Linked DNA regions of Homo sapiens. The protein of the gene in region 4 purifies or fractionates together with the protein of the main gene of each other region. This does not show direct contact. Each region holds a gene or a part of one and is shown on either strand. Other genes may lie near its edges. The genes, in order: POGLUT1, DNAJC17, PAPOLG, DHX29 and MTHFD2.

The links.
Region 1: the proteins of DHX29 (region 4) and POGLUT1 fractionate together in Homo sapiens (co-fractionation; one large-scale study listed by BioGRID). This does not show direct contact.
Region 2: the proteins of DHX29 (region 4) and DNAJC17 fractionate together in Homo sapiens (co-fractionation; one large-scale study listed by BioGRID). This does not show direct contact.
Region 3: the proteins of DHX29 (region 4) and PAPOLG fractionate together in Homo sapiens (co-fractionation; one large-scale study listed by BioGRID). This does not show direct contact.
Region 5: the proteins of DHX29 (region 4) and MTHFD2 fractionate together in Homo sapiens (co-fractionation; one large-scale study listed by BioGRID). This does not show direct contact.

What each region holds. Positions count from the first base shown.
Region 1 is NC_000003.12:119,471,923-119,475,508, reverse strand, and holds part of POGLUT1 (protein O-glucosyltransferase 1 precursor), read right to left. Parts: intron 1-3,586. UniProt on the Homo sapiens protein: Dual specificity glycosyltransferase that catalyzes the transfer of glucose and xylose from UDP-glucose and UDP-xylose, respectively, to a serine residue found in the consensus sequence of C-X-S-X-P-C.
Region 2 is NC_000015.10:40,800,922-40,804,507, forward strand, and holds part of DNAJC17 (dnaJ homolog subfamily C member 17), read right to left. Parts: intron 1-3,586. UniProt on the Homo sapiens protein: May negatively affect PAX8-induced thyroglobulin/TG transcription.
Region 3 is NC_000002.12:60,794,243-60,797,828, reverse strand, and holds part of PAPOLG (poly(A) polymerase gamma), read right to left. Parts: intron 3,120-3,586; coding exon 3,054-3,119; intron 2,866-3,053; coding exon 2,809-2,865; intron 768-2,808; coding exon 669-767; 3' UTR 1-668. UniProt on the Homo sapiens protein: Responsible for the post-transcriptional adenylation of the 3'-terminal of mRNA precursors and several small RNAs including signal recognition particle (SRP) RNA, nuclear 7SK RNA, U2 small nuclear RNA, and ribosomal 5S RNA.
Region 4 is NC_000005.10:55,255,668-55,259,253, forward strand, and holds the end of DHX29 (ATP-dependent RNA helicase DHX29), read right to left. Parts: intron 874-3,586; coding exon 821-873; 3' UTR 388-820; downstream 1-387. UniProt on the Homo sapiens protein: ATP-binding RNA helicase involved in translation initiation. Part of the 43S pre-initiation complex that is required for efficient initiation on mRNAs of higher eukaryotes with structured 5'-UTRs by promoting efficient NTPase-dependent 48S complex formation.
Region 5 is NC_000002.12:74,197,270-74,201,495, forward strand, and holds the start of MTHFD2 (bifunctional methylenetetrahydrofolate dehydrogenase/cyclohydrolase, mitochondrial isoform A precursor), read left to right. Parts: upstream 1-1,345; 5' UTR 1,346-1,372; coding exon 1,373-1,473; intron 1,474-4,112; exon of another isoform or gene 4,113-4,210; intron 4,211-4,226. UniProt on the Homo sapiens protein: Although its dehydrogenase activity is NAD-specific, it can also utilize NADP at a reduced efficiency.

The DNA.
Region 1 (3,586 bases), on a different chromosome or scaffold from region 4:
ACATTAATTGCCCTAGTTATTATACTTTTAGGAATTTAGCCTACATATATATTTACATGAGTGTTCACAGTAACAAGGATGTTCACTGCAGCATTGCTTGCGTTATCCAAAAAGCAAAGTGATGTGGTAAGGGATAATCTAAATGTCCACTGATAGAGGGCTGAATAAAGAAATCCATATAATAAGTTATTATGCAGCCATGAAAAAGTGAGGCATTCTCTATGGACTCTTATGGAACAATCTCAAAATCTACTGTTATATGGAAAAGAAATCTAAGTGCAGAACAGAAGACAGCATGTTTTATTTTGTTGATGAGTCTAGATGCTTGTAAATGTACAGACTATTTCTAGAAGGATATACAAGACACAGAATTCTAATTGTCTTTTGAAAAGAGGTCTCAGGGACTAGCAGTCTGAGGGTCTGAGGTGGAAGAGAAACTTCCTTTTCACTGAATGTCTTTTGGAGGTATCCAAATATTTTAGCATGGTAAAATATTTGGATATTTTACATATCCAAAGTGTATGTAATACTCTTTGACACTAAAAGAAAAAAAAAACTAGTTAAAAAATGTAAAAAAATATTGCAGTACAATTTATACATTACAGCTAAAATGCTCGTATTTCTTTCACATTTGGCTTTTAATTTAGTTTAATTTAATTTTTATTTTTTGAGATGGAGTTTCTTTCTTGTTGACCAGGCTGGAGTGTAATGGCGTGGTCTTAGCTCACTGTAACCTCCGCCTCCCGGGTTCAAGCGATTTTCCTGCCTCAGCCTCCCAAGTAGCTGGGATTACAGGCGCCTGCCACCATGCCTGGCTAAATTTTTTTGTATTTTTAGTAGAGTCGGGGTTTCACCATATTGGCCAGGGTGATCTCGAACTCCTGACCTCAAGTGATCCACTCACCTCAGCCTCCCAAACTGCTGGGATTACAGGTGTGATCCACCATGCCCGGCCACATTTGGCTTTTCAAATATACTCTCTTATATGATTCCATTTATAGAAAACTAGAAAATAATCTATAATTCGAGAAAGTAGTCAGCGGCTGCCTGAAGGTGGGGCATGGGGAGGAGAGGGAGACAGGGAGACGCAGGAGAGAGGGAATGCAAAGAGGCAGAAGGAACGTTTTGGTTGTGATGGAAGGTTCATTATCTTGGTATAAACATACATGAAGACTTATCAGTGTACACTGTAGGTTTTATTTTTAATTGATAAATAATAATTGTACATATTTACAGGATACAATGTAATGTTTTGATATATGTTTACATTGTGGAATGAGTATATCAAGCTAATTAACATATCCTCACATACTATTTTTTTGTTGTGGGAACATTTACATTGTATACTTTATATGTAATTTATGTTAACCACACCTCAATAAAGCTGTTATTAAAAAATACCATTACTCCTCATCTTTGAAATGACTTGTCTCTAGCATTAATTAGATAAACCTCTGGTTCCTCTGCTCATCCTTGAAATGTGGAGTTTATATTTTATTTTATTCAAAACTGAGTTTTTAAAATGTCACATAGATTTCTGAAACTGGATGAGTTAAAAGTATCTAGACCTGCCTGTAATCCCAGCACTTTGGGAGGCCGAGGCAGGCAGATCATGAGGTCAGGAGTTTGAGACCAGCCTGACGAACGAGGTGAAACCCCGTCTCTACTAAAAACACAAAAATTAGCCAGGTGTGGTGGCGGGCGCCTGTAGTCCCAGCTACTCAGCAGGCTGAGGCAAGAGAATGGCTTGAACCCGGGAGGCAGAGGTTGCAGTGAGCCGAGATCACACCACTGCACTCCAGACTGGGTGACAGAGTGAGATTCTCTCTCTCAAAAAAAAAAAAAAAAGTATCTAGACGTAGAAAGATATTATTTCTAACTATATGGGAATCTTTGAGATATCATACGACTGTGTGCATTTCATTCAGGATTGTGTTTTGGAATACTGCATTCTATTCGTATTTTGTCCCTCTCTGTTTTCCTTAGTTGTATATGTAGCTAGGATAGGGAACTTTCAGTGTCATTGGAAATATATATTATTTTATTGCTAATGAAGGTCCTGTACTCCCTTCAGAACATTTCTAAGCTCATGATTATGACCAAAATGTTCTGAGCTCAGGAAGAAGAGAATTGTGCCTTTCAGAAACTTTGAAAGCATTTCATTTCATTTGGCAATTGTTCAGCAAACTATTAAACATTGGGTAAGCTTTCAAAGTCCAACAATGTCTATATTCTTATTTTATTTCTCATCTGTGGAAATCAAAAATTCTCCTAGACTCACAATTTGTACTTAAAGTCTCTATTATTGAGTTCCAAATAATGAAACAAATGTCTGTTTAAAATACCTTAACGATTTTTTCCTCTACAACCTTATTTCCTCCGATATCTGATAGCCAAAGGGTAACTGATTTCCTCAGGGTAGTGAGATATTAAATAATCTTTCTTTTTTATTGTTCTTTATTATTATTTATTTGAGACAGGTCTTGCTCTATCACCCTGGCTGGAGTGCAGTGGCATAATCACGGCTCAGGCTTACTGCAGCCTTGACCTCCTGGGCTCAGGTGATCCACTCACTTCAGCCTCCCAAGTAGCTAGGACTACAAACACATGCCACCACACTCAGCTAATGTTTGTATTTTTTGTAGAGATGAGGTTTTGCCATGTGGCCTAGGCTCGTCTTGAACTCCTGAGCTCAAGCGATCTGCGTGCATTGACTTCCCGAAGTGCTGGGATTATAGGCACAAGCCACCATGCCCAGCCTGTTTTCTTGTTTACATTTATTTATTTATTTATTTAGACAGTTTCGCTCTTGTTTCCCAGCCTGGAGTGCAATGGCACAATCTCAGCTCACCGCAACCTCTGCCTCCTGGGTTCAAGCAATTCTCCTGCCTCAGCCTCCTGAGTAGCTGGGATTACAGGCATGCGCCACCACAGCTGGCTAATTTTGTATTTTTAGTAAAGACAGGGTTTCTCCATGTTGGTCAGTTTGGTCTCAAACTCCCGACTTCAAGTGATCCGCTCATCTCAGCCTCCCAAAGTGCTGGGATTACAGGCTTGAGCCACCGCACCCGGCCTTGTTTATATACTTATAAGAATAAATATTAAATTCTTACAAAGTTGTTATTAAATACAAATAATACAAATCTTTATGAACGAATCGATAATTTTTTGCAACTCTGCACATTTATTTCACTTTTAATGACAGAATAGGGATTGTTTAGAAAGATGCTCTTACATAAGGGAATATTATGCCCTCTGAGTTTTGTACCTTCTAATTTTATAAAGATCTGAGTTAAAAAAAAAAAACAAACTCCAAAAATAAAGTTTATCTTTTGGTGTGTGCAATGCTGCCTAAACCCAACCTCCACCCTCAGCCCATGACCCTCCCTGCTTACCACCCTGCCTTCAGCCCACTGACATGGTACCTCAGGTCTCACACCTGAAGTTCTGAAGTCCTGGCTAGTGTAATTTGCAGCACTAGTTACTCCTCTTTATTTATTTATTTTTTAATAGACAGGGTCTCACTCTGTTGTATTATTTGCCACTGCCGGATTATTTGCCATAATCCAACTCCTGGGCTCAAGTA
Region 2 (3,586 bases), on a different chromosome or scaffold from region 4:
TGCTCCAGCCTGGGCGACAGCGAGACTCCGTCTCAAAAAAAAAAAAAAAAAGGTCATGGGCCATTTGGCCCCTCAAACTGTAGTTTGCCCTACTCCTTCATTTTACATTTGGGGAAAGTCAGGTCCTGAGAGACGCAGTGACTGCCCTTGGTCTCCTGATTCTCAAGTAAAGTCGTTGCAGTGGTCTCTTTAGCTACTACTTCATTCATTCAACAAATACTTATTGAGAACCTACTATGTGCCAGTCACCAGGTAAGGGGCTGCTACAGAAGAGCATGAATCAGATCTGGTCCTCAGAAGTAGGAGTGCAGAGGGGATTAAGGCATGAGACAAATAATCACACAGATAAATACATAATTGCAAACTGAAATAAGTGCTAGAAAAAAGAAAAACCAGCTGCCATGAAATAGAATATAAGGCAAGGCTTCTCTGAGGATGCCATTTCGACTGAGTTCTGAAGGACAAGTAAAAGCAACCCAGATTAGCAGAAGGGGAGGAAGAGCATTCCTGGCAGAGGAAAATGTATGAATGAGCTAAGAAATTGTTGAGTATTGGCTGGGTGCGGTGGCTCACGCCTGCAATCCCAGCACTTTGGGAGGCCGAGGTGGGCGGATCACGAGGTCAGGAGATCAAGACCATCCTGTGAATGGTGAAACCCCGTCTCTACTAAAAATACAAAAAATTAGCCGGGCGTGGTGGCGGGCGCCTGTAGTCCCAGCTACTCAGGAGGCTGAGACGGGAGAATGGCGTGAACCTGGGAGGCGGAGCTTGCAGCCACTGCACTCCAGCCTGGGTGACAGAGCGAGACTCCGTCTCAAAAAAAAAAAAAAAAAAAAGAAAAGAAAAGAAATTCTATTGAGTATTTTATTAGAAGTGCTAAATAGGGTTTTCAGGGAGTAGCAAGATCATTCCATTTTCTGTGAGGAGAATTGGAGAGGCTCAATAGATCAGAATGGAATAGGCTGAAAGCAGAAAAAAGTTGGCAGGCTCCTCTAAACATTCAGCTGAGTGGATGGGGGCCTGGGCTGGAGCAGTAGTGGTGGAGACAGAGAGGGTGAACAGGTTTGGGGATTATTTGGGAGGCTGACTCATCAGGACCCGGTGATGTTCTAGATGGCAGGGGTGAGAGGATAGGGAGGTACTGAGAATGACTCCAGGTTCCTAGCTTGAATGGATGGATGGTGGTGCCACAAGATGGGGAAATCCAAGGAAGGAGCAGGTTTGGAGAGAGAATTGAAAGAGTTCAATTTTTTTTTTTTTTTTTTTCGAGACAGATTCTAGCTCCGTCACCCAGGCTGGAGTGCAGTGGCTTGATCTCAGCTCACTGCAACCTCCGCCTCCCAGGTTCAAGCGATTCTCCTGCCTCAGCCTCCCAGTAGCTGGGACTACAGGCACGTGCCACCGCGTCTGGCTAGTTTTTATATTTTTAGTAGAGATAGGATTTCACCCTGTTGGCCAGGCTGTCTAAAACTCCTGACCTCAGGTGATCTGCCTGCCTGGGCCTCTCGAAGTGCTGGGATTACAGACATGAGCCACTGCGCCTGGCCAATTTTTGGATGTAGTAAGATTTAGACCGCTGTGAAACATCCACATGGAGGGATCAAACAGGCAGATAGATACACAGATTTGAGATTCAGAGAAGTAGTCTGAACACAAGTTAAATTTGGTGGTGGTGCTCATCACTACCACTGAACCGCGCTGGACAGGGCCAGGGAGCCTTAGCAGAAGGAGCAGAGGCCTGAGCTGGACATCAGGGCATCAGGGCATCAGGGCATCAGGGTTCTAGTCCCAATTCTGCCACTAACCACCTTCTCCGAGCTGCAGTTTCGCCATCAGTAACACAGGGAGCTTGGCCTCCATTAGGGCTTCTTTGACTTTTGGATTAAAATTCCCTCCTCTGGCCAGGCGTGGTAGCTCATGCCTATAACCCAAACACTTTTCAGAGGCCAAGGCGGGAGGACTGCTTGAACCCAGGAGTTCAAGACCAACCTGGCCAACATGGTGGAACCCGATCTCTACAAAAATACAAAAATTAGCCAGGCATGGCGGTGCACACCTGTGGTCCCAGCTACTTTTGAGGCTGAGGTGGGAGGATTGCTTGAGCCCAGGAGGCAGAGTTTGCAGTGAGCAGTAATCATGCCACTGACTCCAGCGTGGGTAACACAGAGAGACCCTGGGTCAAAAAAAAAAAAAAGAAAAAAAAAGTCCTCCTCTCCTCCAGAATAAATACAAAAAAAAAAAAAATCACGCATGATTTTCAGAGGTTCCTTCACCCAGTTCCTGGAGCCTTTCTGTAGAGGGCAAATTGAGAACTCCTAGGCTATTTGGACAACCAGTTTAGGAGTTCTTCCTTGTATACACTTTAAATATTTGTTTGTCCTCTAGGTTGCCCTATGGCAGCAACCTAGGTTGTCTATGACAGGTATTAAACCATGGTGCGGGGACACCAGGGCCTAGGTTTTTCTTGCTTTCTACCAAAAAGTGTGTTGCCATGAAGCTAGCCAGTGTATCCAAAGTGTAAATGGGAGTAAGTGCTAGAAAGGAGAATGGCTGCTATGAAAAGAAAAATAGGTAAGGCCTCTTTGAGGGTGCCACCTACTTATGCTCCAAAATAGACTGTATGTATTAATATATACATTTGCTTTCTTGGAATGCCCTGCCTCCATCTCCACATGTCCAAACTCTGCCCATTCTTCAAGGCCCCAAATACCTTCTCTCCTGCCTTTATTCCTTCTCTCAAACTAATAGCAATCTCAGCCTACACTGAACATCCACAGCACTTTGTACCCCTCTTAAGGAACTCACCATGTCTCCCTTGTATGCGTGAATCTTGCCCCCCCATTAAAGGCAGGAGCAGCACCTGTTACCCTTTATAGAGTGGCTTCACACCTATCCCTTATCTCATCTGAGTTAGAACTGGATCCCAGCCACCACTGCCCAGCTCAGACCTTGGTCTCTTGCCTAGACACCAGCCCCATCTGACCCCCTAGTGGCAGCTCTTCCATTCCTCCCACCCCCACCCATTTTCATTATGCACACTAGTGTTGAATTTTCTTTTCTTTTTTAAGAGTGGCAGGGTCTCACCCTGTCATCCAGGCTGGAATACAGTGGCAAAATCATAGCTCACTGAAACTTCCCAGGCTCAAGTGATCCTCCCACCTCAGCCTCCCATGTAGCGGGGACTACAGGTGCGTAACACCCTGCCCAGCTTTTTTTTTTATATATAGAGAGAGAGACAGGCTCTCACTACGTTTCCCAGGCTGGTCTCAAACTCCTGGCCTCAAGCGTTCCTTCCACCTTGGCCTCCCAAAGTGCTGGGATTGCAGGTGTGAGCCATCACACTCAGTCAAATACTTTCTTTAAAATCCAATTATGGGCAGGGCACAGTGGCTCATGCCTGCAATCCCAGCACTCTGGGAGACCAGGCAGGAGGATAGCTTGAACCCAGGAGTTCGACACCAGCCTGGGCAATATAGCTGGACCCCGTCTCTGGAAAAAAAAAAAAAGCAAAAACAAACACAAAACAAATTAGCCAGGCATGATGATGCACACCTGCAGTCCCAACTACATGAGAGGCTGAGGTGGG
Region 3 (3,586 bases), on a different chromosome or scaffold from region 4:
ATCACTGGACTAATCTTCCCTGGTAACTATGCAACATTTGGACAGAAAGGCACACAAAAAAGTTTAAATATTTCATGTGCCAATCTGGAAAAAAATAATTTAAATCAACAGAACAGACAGTACATCTACACAAATGAGGAAAGCAGAAAAGATACCTCACATTCATTTATCTCAGGTTTCAAAGTGGCTTCAATGCTAAAGTAAATGTATTAACATTTGGAAAATACAAGACAATTTTTTTGTTTGTTTTCAATTTTTTTAGCTCTATACAATGATTACAACATAAGACAAAAAAAGAAAAACACAAAAAACAAAACAAAAAAGGAGTTCAGGACTTGTTATCAGTGTCCAAGTGGCTAAGAACTGGTTCCCATAACAAGCATTGAAAGTTAAGGCAGTAAAACCCCCAAATGCAAAGCTGTAATACTGTAGATGGCAATTTGACAGCAGGTGATCCTCAGAGAAGTGTATGTAGCAATCAGTGAGAGAATGCTACAGCATCTACAGGTCAAAGTTTGACAGTTCAAAAACCACTTCAAGGTTATTAGACTGAAGGCTGTCACTTTCACCTTATTTCACGTATGACAGCCACTTCTATTTAAAAAACAAGTGGCTGCATCTATGCCACTAAATGATTGCTTGTTCACTTAAGTGAGGAGGCACTGCTTTTACCGATTAAGGGTCAGTCGAATGGAATTTTTGATGACACGGATGTTGTTTGCTGGAACTGGAGATGATGAATCTGGTAGTTCTTTACTGGGTAGTCTCTATTAGAAAGAAAGAGGAAACAAAAAAGGAAAAGCACATCATATATATTATAAAGGCCCAGCTAGAAAGTCAGTCACAAAACTTGGGGAGTTTTTCTCCCAAACCCTCTAGCTCCTAAACACTCAAGTATGCAATGAATATTTCCTTCCGTGTTCATAGGGAACTCTTGCTTTCGGAACTGCTACTTCTTTTTACAGTCAGAGGTGAAAAGCAGAGGGATAAGAGAAAGGGTAGAAGTGGCAGGAGTGTGAATATGTACAGGAAAAGAGGAACTGCCATGCCTGGATCAAGAAATGCATAAAGAACACAGTCCTTAAGGTCAAGCAAAGAAAAAAAAAAGGAAGTTCATGGTGACTAAACAGGAAGCTCTTGGGGTGTGAAGTGAAAAATGAGTGTGTGCAGTAGAGAAAAATTTAATATCTGAGAGTTATGTCCCTCAATTTGTTTCTGTAATACATTCATGAAGAAGACCACTGACTCAATCTGTGAGATACTTAAGTTCTCAGGAAAACTGAACTTTGTACTTAGGCTAGATAACTTTGATGGTTATGAAATTCAGGGACATCGGTTTGAGGGATTCTGAGGGCATTAAAGATTATTACATAAAGAAGGCAAAATCTAGGGCCGGGCATGGTGGTTCACGCCTGTAATCCCAGAACTTTGGGAGGCCAAGGCGGGCGAATCACTTGAGGTCAGGAGTTCAAGAGCAGCCTGGCCAATATGGTGAAACCCTTTTCCACTACAAATACAAAAATTAGCCACTACAAATACAAAAAGATCGCGCCATTGCACTCCAACCTGGGCTACAGAGCGAGCCTCCATGTCCAAAAAAAAAAAAAAAAAAAAAAAAAAGGAAGGCAAAATCTAGACTTCTGTAATGGGGATAGTTTCTTGTCAAGAGATGACTGCTTAATTCTCCTCTTGTTTTACCTTGGCTAAGCCAGTATCTGTATCATATCCATATGCATTAAAACAATTATGAGCAATTTCAGATATACAAAGAAGTAGACACCAGGGCAATAAGGACTTAAATGCCAAAACCAAGTTTCAGACATTATTACAATTTTGCTGCAATTGTTTGGTGTACCCACTTTCCCTTTAGACTGGATATATTAAAAAATCCAGATATGTCATTTCACTCTTTTGTACTTCAATATCCATCTCAAAATTTTTTCTTCCACCATGACACATAATTATACGTTCATATTTTTTGTAACTTAATCTTATGTTAAAGGCTCAAAATCTACAACTAATAGCCTGTGAGTATACTATTTTGCTTTAGAATAGCTACTACATCCTGGAGAACCTGGCAGGGTAACAGTTGATGAAAAGCACTTTACTATTTAATGGCCATTCTGTTTTATTATAAATTATAATTTATAATTATCATCATATATATTTATAATTATTTATCATTATTATAAATAAGCCATTCTGTTCATTATAAACTCTCAGAGAAGGTTTTTCTCTATTTACACAAGGCTGGTTTTTGAGTACTTGCTTTTTAGCATACCACACTTAATACTACACACATTTTTAGTTATAAAAGTAATTCTTCAAATAATAAACATTTAAATTACAATTTAGGGGCGTTTAGCTCATGTTTTAAAGGTACTTACTATATATACCACTACATTTGGTTCCTCTAAAATATTAATACATATGGTTCCTAATTATCAAACCTATGTTTTGGCAGTAAGCAATAGTACACAACAGAGATATACCTCCAGGTGCTTGGTAAGAAATTAATGTGCTGAGCATCCAACTGCTTCTTTAAAGATAAAAAACAAAGGGTGAACATAATCTAAATAGATAATAAAGTTGTCTTAAACTACTGCCTCTTTTTTAGACTTTTGAGGTACATACATTCAGAACTATATACTTGCTATCTCCAACCCCAACTACACTGCTAGTCCTTGGGGACAGGGACAAAATCTTACTTTTTCCCAGTGCTAGGCTCTTAATAAGCCTTTTGTACTTGTAGATTACCTATGAGTTTTTACCTATGTACTGTACCTATGAACAAGACTATCTTGTTACCTTTTTGCGTGATGTATCAATAGTTGGAATAGGCATAGATTCTCCTCCAATGGCATCCTAAAAACAGAAGAATCAACACAAGTGAAAACTAACTTTCCTATATGCAAACACTTATTTCTACTTAAAATAAAACCTAACGAAAACCTGAAAATAAATCTAATCTGACCTACTTTCTAATATGGCACTTTTCCTGATACATGGCGCTTTACAATAAATATTCTGAAGCACACTATTAATATATTTACCACTGATTTTCTTTTTCTTTCTTCAGCAGTGCGGGGGTCCTTAAATGTTGATTCAAGTCGAATAAACTAAAATATAAACATTGAAATAGATTGCTATTATGTACCTACAAAAACCCATATAAATCTATATAAACTGGAAAACTAGTTATTGGTTACACTATTATAAAAATTACTATAAACATGGATTGGTAAGAGAAGATAATTTAAATTAGATTGAATTCAACTGCCACCGTTAATTTCTACAGTTTGGGTGATCTTTTTGGTTAAATCAATTCAGATTCTAACAAATATAGTTTTACCACCACCTACTGGAAGCAGGGCATATCAACACACAAGAAATGAGATTTTGTTATCAGTAATGACTTCTGTAAATCAAGGAGAAACTCAGACCAATCATTCAAATTTTCAGACGTATTAGTAATTTCAATTTAGGATGAGCAATTAATATTGTTTCTTTAAGATTTGGGTAAATATTCTTTTCAGCCAACTCCTAACAGAACACCAACAGCTATGGAAAATTGTTTCTTTAGTAT
Region 4 (3,586 bases):
ATCAAAAATCTATTGATTAAGAAATGAGAAATCCCTCTAAGTAATAAAAATGGAATTTCAAAAGATTGTTAGTAACCAAAACAAATAGGACCAATGAAAAATACCTACGCATACTTTACTATCTCAAAGTTACTGACCTTACCAGTTCAATCGCGTATATAAAAAGGGTTCAGGGGCAGGGATATCACAGCGGTAGCCTGAGGAAAACAGTGCAAACTATCCATCCCAAGGCTGACAGGAGTATTTATTAGTCAATCTTGCCTGTCTTCCAGAACCACATGTTTATGCTTTTTGAATGTTACTGAAATAGGTGGCATCTATTAATAGTGCATTTATTTAGGTTCTGAAATTGACTATCAAATACTAAATAACTGACTTCTGAAGTTGTTCCTTTTCATGGAAATTTAATTATAATTGGTTTTGGAGATTATTTTCCCTTCTGGGTCTATAGGGTTTAAATTCTGCAGACATCAAGGACTGATAGGGGATGAGGCAGCTACACAGGGAATCACAACATTAAGCTACAGATACCACAGACATAGGCCTTGCCCTTATTAACACAACGATGAGCAAAACATGCATAATACCAAAGAATTTATTGTAAATGTAGTGGCAAATACATTCAGAATAATCATCATTAAAAAGGAACTAGAAAATTATACATGTTTAAAGTATGTGCTTTTTTCCCACCACCTTTAAGTTAATGGCTAGTACCAACATTTTAAGTAATGAAATACTTAATGTGATGACCCATTTTCAGATAATTTCATGACTGTATCTTCATCTTAATTTTTAAAGCAGTTGACCATGAATTTCAGTTTCAGTTATTCTCTGTTTTTATCAATTCCGTAATGATCTGCAGAATCTTGTCATCTGAGTGGAAGGAAAAAAAAAAGCCACGAATAAATGCAACATTGTCTAATTTTCCAAGGTATGCACATGTAAATAAGAGGTATATGTCACTAAAAATTTTTACATTAGAATACAGAATTAACACCAGTAATAAAACTAGAGACACCTATAAAATATTTTTTGCCCTACATAGATTTTATTGCTGTAGGTTATGCCATACCTAGTTTGACAAAAGTTAACATTTTGAAAACAGATAACATTTGTATAGGCTAAACCCCAAAGAGATAATATGATGTGAAATGTTACTTCTTTATAAGGAATTATAAATTTTATTCTATAAAAATTCCTTGAAGAAAGTAAGTTTCTCAACTTTTTCACTTGGCTGCAATATACTGAAGGCTCTACTGACTCTTCAGTGTTCTTCAGAGTATGGCAGAATTTCCAAAGTATGAGCAAGGAAGAAAGAACTGTTACCAGTTTCTCCATGTTTAGTCCAAAGGAAACAAAAAATTCTAACAGGGAAGCGCTCTTGGAGAGGTGTCAATGCGGAAGTGACAGACCTCTCTACACAACAAAGGAATCAAATACCAATTAATTTGACAAACAGAGCAACAGAGGCTGCATTATTTGCTAAAGGGGTTTTGTTAACAACTGCTTCTACTTAATAGTTAACTCTGAAATTGTGACTTCCTAAGAACCTCACAACCACTCTTTAGGAAGTTACAATTATCAGGGCTGCAAAACTGAAATTCTACATTTACGTTAGATACTCAGAGAATGCTGTCGCTTTCAATAGTTGCAATGGTTACAGTGGCATTAGAAACAACAACAAAAAAGTGGGAGGGAGGGGAAAAAGAGAGGTCACTTGTTTGAAGTTGGAACAATGGCAGGTCTAGAAAGAACGTTTTTCTTTTTTATTTTTTAAGAGATGGAGTCTCACTCTCGCCTAGGCTGTAGTGCAGTGGTGTGATCACAGCTCACTGCAGCTCTGAACTCCTGGGCTCAAGCAATCTTCCCATCTCAGCCCTCTGAGTAGCTGGGATTACAGGCGCAAGCCACCATACCTGGCTCCAAGAACCATGATTTTTAAATTGAGGAAGAGAGAGTAAAAGAAAGTACAAGAGTAAGTTCAGTTACTGTTTTTCAAATGTTTGGCATTCTACCAACTTTTTGTTATAAATCCAAGAGAGAGCACTAACATACTTCTTCCTTCCTCCCAAGTCAAACGTATATACTACACCCAACTTGGTAAGTTCTGCTCTCTCTCTTATGGCAAAGGGAAACACTGATATCATTTCAAAAAATCATTTTGCTTAATTAAAAGCTGAGGTTCAACCTATACTTTATAAAATGTAATTCTTTCTAATGCCAAAGTTATAATGCACAAAGCTTCCTGAGAAAAGAGCCCACGTCTTAATATGTTAAGACTTGATCTGTTTCCAGCAGTATAGGAAAATTAATACATTTTAATGCTTATGCATTCATATTTAGTTATACAAATAAACACAGAGTATGAGGCTTCAGGGTAGTAGAACTAGATCAGTAGCTCCCCCAACTTGCCTGTGACTGTTGAGAATAAACTGGGGATACTTTGTTCAGTACAATCATACTGAAGTCACTGATCAATTCTTAACATTAAAAGGACAACCAAATTTAAGTGCTTCCTGGTGTGACGCAGTGGGGAGAATACAGCACCAACTAGAAAGTATTATTTTCCTCAAAACTTATTCTAATCATACCTCCAAATATAACTACCAGTTTATAGGAAATACATGAACATGTTAAAGCATGAGTATGTAACTAACCAAATCCTAAATGTGGGACATTCTACCAGAAAAACAACTCAGTTTATTAAAAATAATTAACTGCATTTAAAAATGGGATAGCCTTAGAGGGGAAATGTTACAGAATAAAATATTTAAAAAATAATATAGCCACAGGCCTCTCCCATAGAGATCAGTATGTCTGGGGTAGGTCTTTGGACCTTGTATTCTTTGCAACTGCCAGGATGATTTTGATGATTTGGCAAGTTTGAGAAACACTGCACTGGGCAAACTGCAAACTCAGATGTCCATTTCAGATTTCTCTCTTATTTTTTGATGTGGGGTCTTGCTCTGTCACCCAGACTGGAGTGCGGATACTCGCCTCAGCCTCCCAAGTAGCTGAGACAACAGGTACAAGCCACCAGGCCCGGCTAACTTTTTTTAATTGTTTGTAGAGATGGCATCTCCCTATGTTACCGAGGCTAGTCTTGAACTCCTGGCCTCAAGCGATCCTCCTGCCTCAGCCTTCCAAAGTGGTGGGATTACAGGCAGGTGTCACCATGCCCGGCTCATTTCAGATTTCTGTTGAAGGATAATGTGTTTATTTTATACAGAGAAATAGCTCTGCATTTGAAAGAAACACATGGTGGAAAAACCATGCTGAAATAAACCTAACAGAAAGTCCCTAATCATACACACACACACAAATACATATATAGGTATGTGTATATATACATATATTTCTTAGAGACAGAGTCTCTCTATGTTGTCTAGGCTGGACTTTAACTCCTGGGCTCAAGCAATCTTCCCACCTCAGCCTTCTGGGTAGCTAGGACTACAGGCATATGACACCATGTTTGGCTTATTATTTTTTTTTAAATAATAGCTATGTTACCAGTTTACTAAAATGCTAATAAGTAACAAAGTTTACTATGCTCAGTTTTATTAACCTTTTTTTCTATGAAATGGCT
Region 5 (4,226 bases), on a different chromosome or scaffold from region 4:
GTCATGTTTCTTCACTGTAAATTTACCATTTTCCTTTCCTTCCTGGAGGCTAGAAGTAAAGGTCAAGGTGTTGACAGGATTGGTTTCCCCTGTTCTTTGTTTGTTTGTTTTGTTTTTTGAGACAGAGTCTTTTTGTTGCCCAGGCTGAAGTGCAGTGGCACAGTCTCGGCTCCCTGCAACCTCTGCCTCCCAGATTCAAGCGATTCTCATGCCTCAGTCTCCCCAGTAGCTGGGATTACAGCGTCCGCCACGATGCTCAGATAATTTTTTGTGTTTTTAGTAGAGACGGGGGTTTCAACACATTGGCCAGGCTGGTCTCGAACTCCTGGCCTCAGGTGATCCGTCCGCCTTGGCCTCCCAAAGAGCTGGGGATTACAGAAGTGAGCCACCGCGCCCTGCCCTCCTTAAGTTTCCTTGCGGGAGAGATACTTTGAGACTATGCAAAAAGTTTGCGGGAAAAAATACAGGAAGCCCAGTTGAATCTGAATTCCAGATAAGCCATAAATAAAGTATAAATATGACCTCCCAAAGTGTTTATCTAAAATTCTGATTTGATTGGGCATCTTGTGTTTTTATTTGCTAGATCTGGCAACCCTATATGTAAATATCTTGCTCCTCATCCAACTTTCACCCAGTTGTTTTGACATCTATTGCTGCTTCTGAATCAGGGTTGCACATGCAACCCTGACGTCTGTCTCTGAATATCTTTTATGATTTTACTTTTTTTGTTGTTGTTTTGAGATATGGTCTCACTCTCGTCGCCCAGGCTGGAGTGCAGTGGCGCGCCTTCAGCTCACTGCAGCCTCAACCTCCTGAACTCAGGTGATCCTTCCACCTCAGCCTCCCCAGTAGCTGGTACTGTAGTCACGCGCCACCATGTACTGATTTTGGAAAATGGTGATTTTCTAACTCCATCATTCCTTTTACTTCTGTTCGTTGGCATTCTATCAGCTTGTCTTTTCATCCACCCTTTACAGTGCTTGGCACACAGTAGGCGCTCATATAATTGTTCAACGAATGAATGAATGAACTTTTCTCTTGTGTTGTCCGGCCTTCGGTGACACTAGCGGCGTCAGGCAGGAGTTTGACTTCCTCAGCCTATCATGGCACGTTGCCGAGGCTTCAGCGCCTTACAGGACCTCGCTCCAGGCTCTTCTGGCTCCAATCAAAAGCAGGGCTCTTTCGGACTTCGCTTACGTTTAATAAAGAAAACCGGTTGGCCCCTTCGGCTCCACCTGGCTCAACAGACAGCCAGTGGCATGCGGCAGGGACCAATGGGTGGCGGAGGGAGGCGGGGCCTGCCACGAGGCCGCAGTATAACCGCGTGGCCCGCGCGCGCGCTTCCCTCCCGGCGCAGTCACCGGCGCGGTCTATGGCTGCGACTTCTCTAATGTCTGCTTTGGCTGCCCGGCTGCTGCAGCCCGCGCACAGCTGCTCCCTTCGCCTTCGCCCTTTCCACCTCGCGGCAGTTCGGTAAGAGGGTCACAGAGCTCGGTCAGCGCGGAAAGCTGAGGGGAACGGAGGGCGAGGGGCACGCCGGGCCCCCGAGGGACACCGAGGGAAGTCCTTCCCGAACATCTCCGCCCCGGCGGTGGTGGCCGCTGAGGGGTGTGGCGGGGCGACGTGGCACCGAGCGCCGCCGCAGCTCTCGACTGGGGCGCTTCCTCGGCGCGGAGGGCTGGTACCCGAAGCCCGCCTTTCGGAGGGAGCCGCTCTCCTGCGACTCGGGGCGTCGCCGGGGCCCGTGGCCAGTCGGCGGGCGGGACGGGGGTGGCGTGCGGAACGCGAAGGCATCAGTTTACGCGGAGCCTTCCGACAGCGCCGGCCGCCTCTGGCTGGGATGCTGAGAGTCGTCTGGGGGAGAACAGGCGAGGGTTCCAAAAGAGCAGCCCTCGGCGAGTTGTCCTTGCGGGGACCCTAGCGGCGGAGGGCGCTGCTGCAGCTGATGAAATCGCGGAGCCGACTTGCTCGGGGTCCCCGCGCCGCCCTCCTCCCTCCGCCGGTGGGAGTGGCCCGCGCTGCCTCCGCTCTGCCAGGAACATGAACGGACTCTGGGCACCCTAGCTTTGGCTGCAGCCCACCAGAGCCTGTCAGTGCCGGGCTGCGTACATAGAGGTGGCAAACATCCGGGAGGCTCCCAGGGCCTTAGGGAAAGGGGGAATGGAGAGTGACAAGTACCCATATTTCAGCGGTACTTGCAGAATTTCAGTTTTACAAGATGAAGAGTTCTGAAGATGGATGGTGGTGATGGTTGCACAACATATGAACGTATTTAATACCACTGAACTGCACTTAAAAATGGTTAAGATGGGCCGGGCGTGGTGACACGCGCCGAGGCTGAGGCACGAGAATCGCTTGAGCCCAGGAGTTCGAGGCTGCAGTGAGCCGTGATTGCACCACTGCCCTCCAGTCTGGGCGACAGAGCGAGACCCTGTCTCAAAAAAAAAAAAAAAAAAAAAAGTTGATAAGGTTTATGTTATGTGAATTTTACCACAATAACAAAATTGGGAAAAATATACAGGGGAGGAGGAAAGGAAAAGCTCTGTTTGCATTTTTGGGTTTCCTTGGGAAGGTGATTTGGTCGGTCATTAGAGCGCTGGCATTGTTGGCATTGTTAGAGCCCTGCACCTTACAACATCAGCCCCTTCTTTTTTTCATCTAACGTTCACTGTGTACCAGACACTATGCCAAGCTGTGCGAATTCAAAGATGAGAAAAACTGTTCTTAATGGAGCTCATGTTCCTGACAAGGGGCAGAACACGCGTGTAATTTCCAGTCAGTGCGGAAATGCTGTTAGAAATATTTCAAAGGCGCTGCTTGTTGGAGCAATGAGTTCTTGAAGGAAAACGTGGGAGGGGACTTTCAGGGTTTTCCCTGGTCTGACTCTTGACCTCCCCCATGTTTCGTTACTGTGTGTTTTCTCCCCTTCTCCCTCTTCCTGAGTGCTGGCCTCATGTGACTGTGGACCAGACCTTTCCTAGGCTTCCATGGTCCAAAAGAGATTTATAAAGATGCTCTCATTCATTACCTAAAGAACTGGGCCAGTTTGTCTACACTCTCCAATAACAAATGCTCTTTTCACTACCTTTCTGAAAGAACAAGTAAGCTTCATCCACATCTCTGAAAGCAATCCATATTATCTGTACTGCACATTTGCTATTTACAATTCCCACATATTGCTTTCTTACTGCTGCTTATTTTTTAAAATACTGTTTATTTTTAAATACTGCTTATTTTTAAAAAGTTGTATCCTTTTAAAAATATGAGTCTGCATTCTTTTTTTTTTTTTCTTTGTTGGATGGTATGAGAGTTTCAGGAACATAAACCTATGGTTGGAGAAATAGTAGCCTAGGAGACAGTGGGATTAGGAAGTCAATGGACTTTAGAGGCAGAAGTTTGCCTTTGAATCTTGTTTCTACTATCCTCAGTTTCATCTTCTGTATTACAGTGTTATTATAATAGTCCCAAGGTAACAGAGTAATATATGTTAAAGTGTAAGCAAAACACCTAGTGTTTAATAGATGTTTGTTCCTTTCTCCATTATGTCTTCCTTCACTCATTATTTTTCCCATTAATAATTGATAACAACTCTTCCCTAAATCACTTGATTATGAATTGTAAAATGTCCTGATACTAATTTCTCATGGAAAATTACAGTACTGTAAGCTATTGAATTAAAAGGAAAGTGAAGATGCTACTCACTTGGATTTTAGTTTTGAATTTTATTTTATTTTTTGAGACGGAGTCTTACTTTGTTGCCCAGGCTGGAGTGCAATGGTGCAATCTTGGCTCACTGCAACCTCTGCCTCCTGGGTTCAAGCTGTTCTCCTACCTCAGCCTCCCAAACAGCTGGGACTATAGGCGCACACCACCATGCCCTGCTAATTTTTGTATTTTTAGTAGAGACAGGGTTTCACCATGTTGGCCAGGCTGGTCTCGACCTCCTGACCTCAAATGATCCACCCACCTTGACCTCCCAAAATGCAGGGATTACAGGCATGAGCCACAGTTTTGGATTTTATTTGAACAGTCCTCTTGACTTCTTCCTATTCTGTTGATTACCTATCTTAATGGGATTTTTTTCTTTCCTTTTTTTTTTTCTTTTTTGGCAGGGGAATCTCTCCCTAGGTCAGGTTGGAGTGCAGTGCTGCAATCACGGCTTACTGCAGCCTTGACCTCCTGGGCTCAAGTGATCCTCCCACCTCAGCTTGTGAGTAACTGGGACC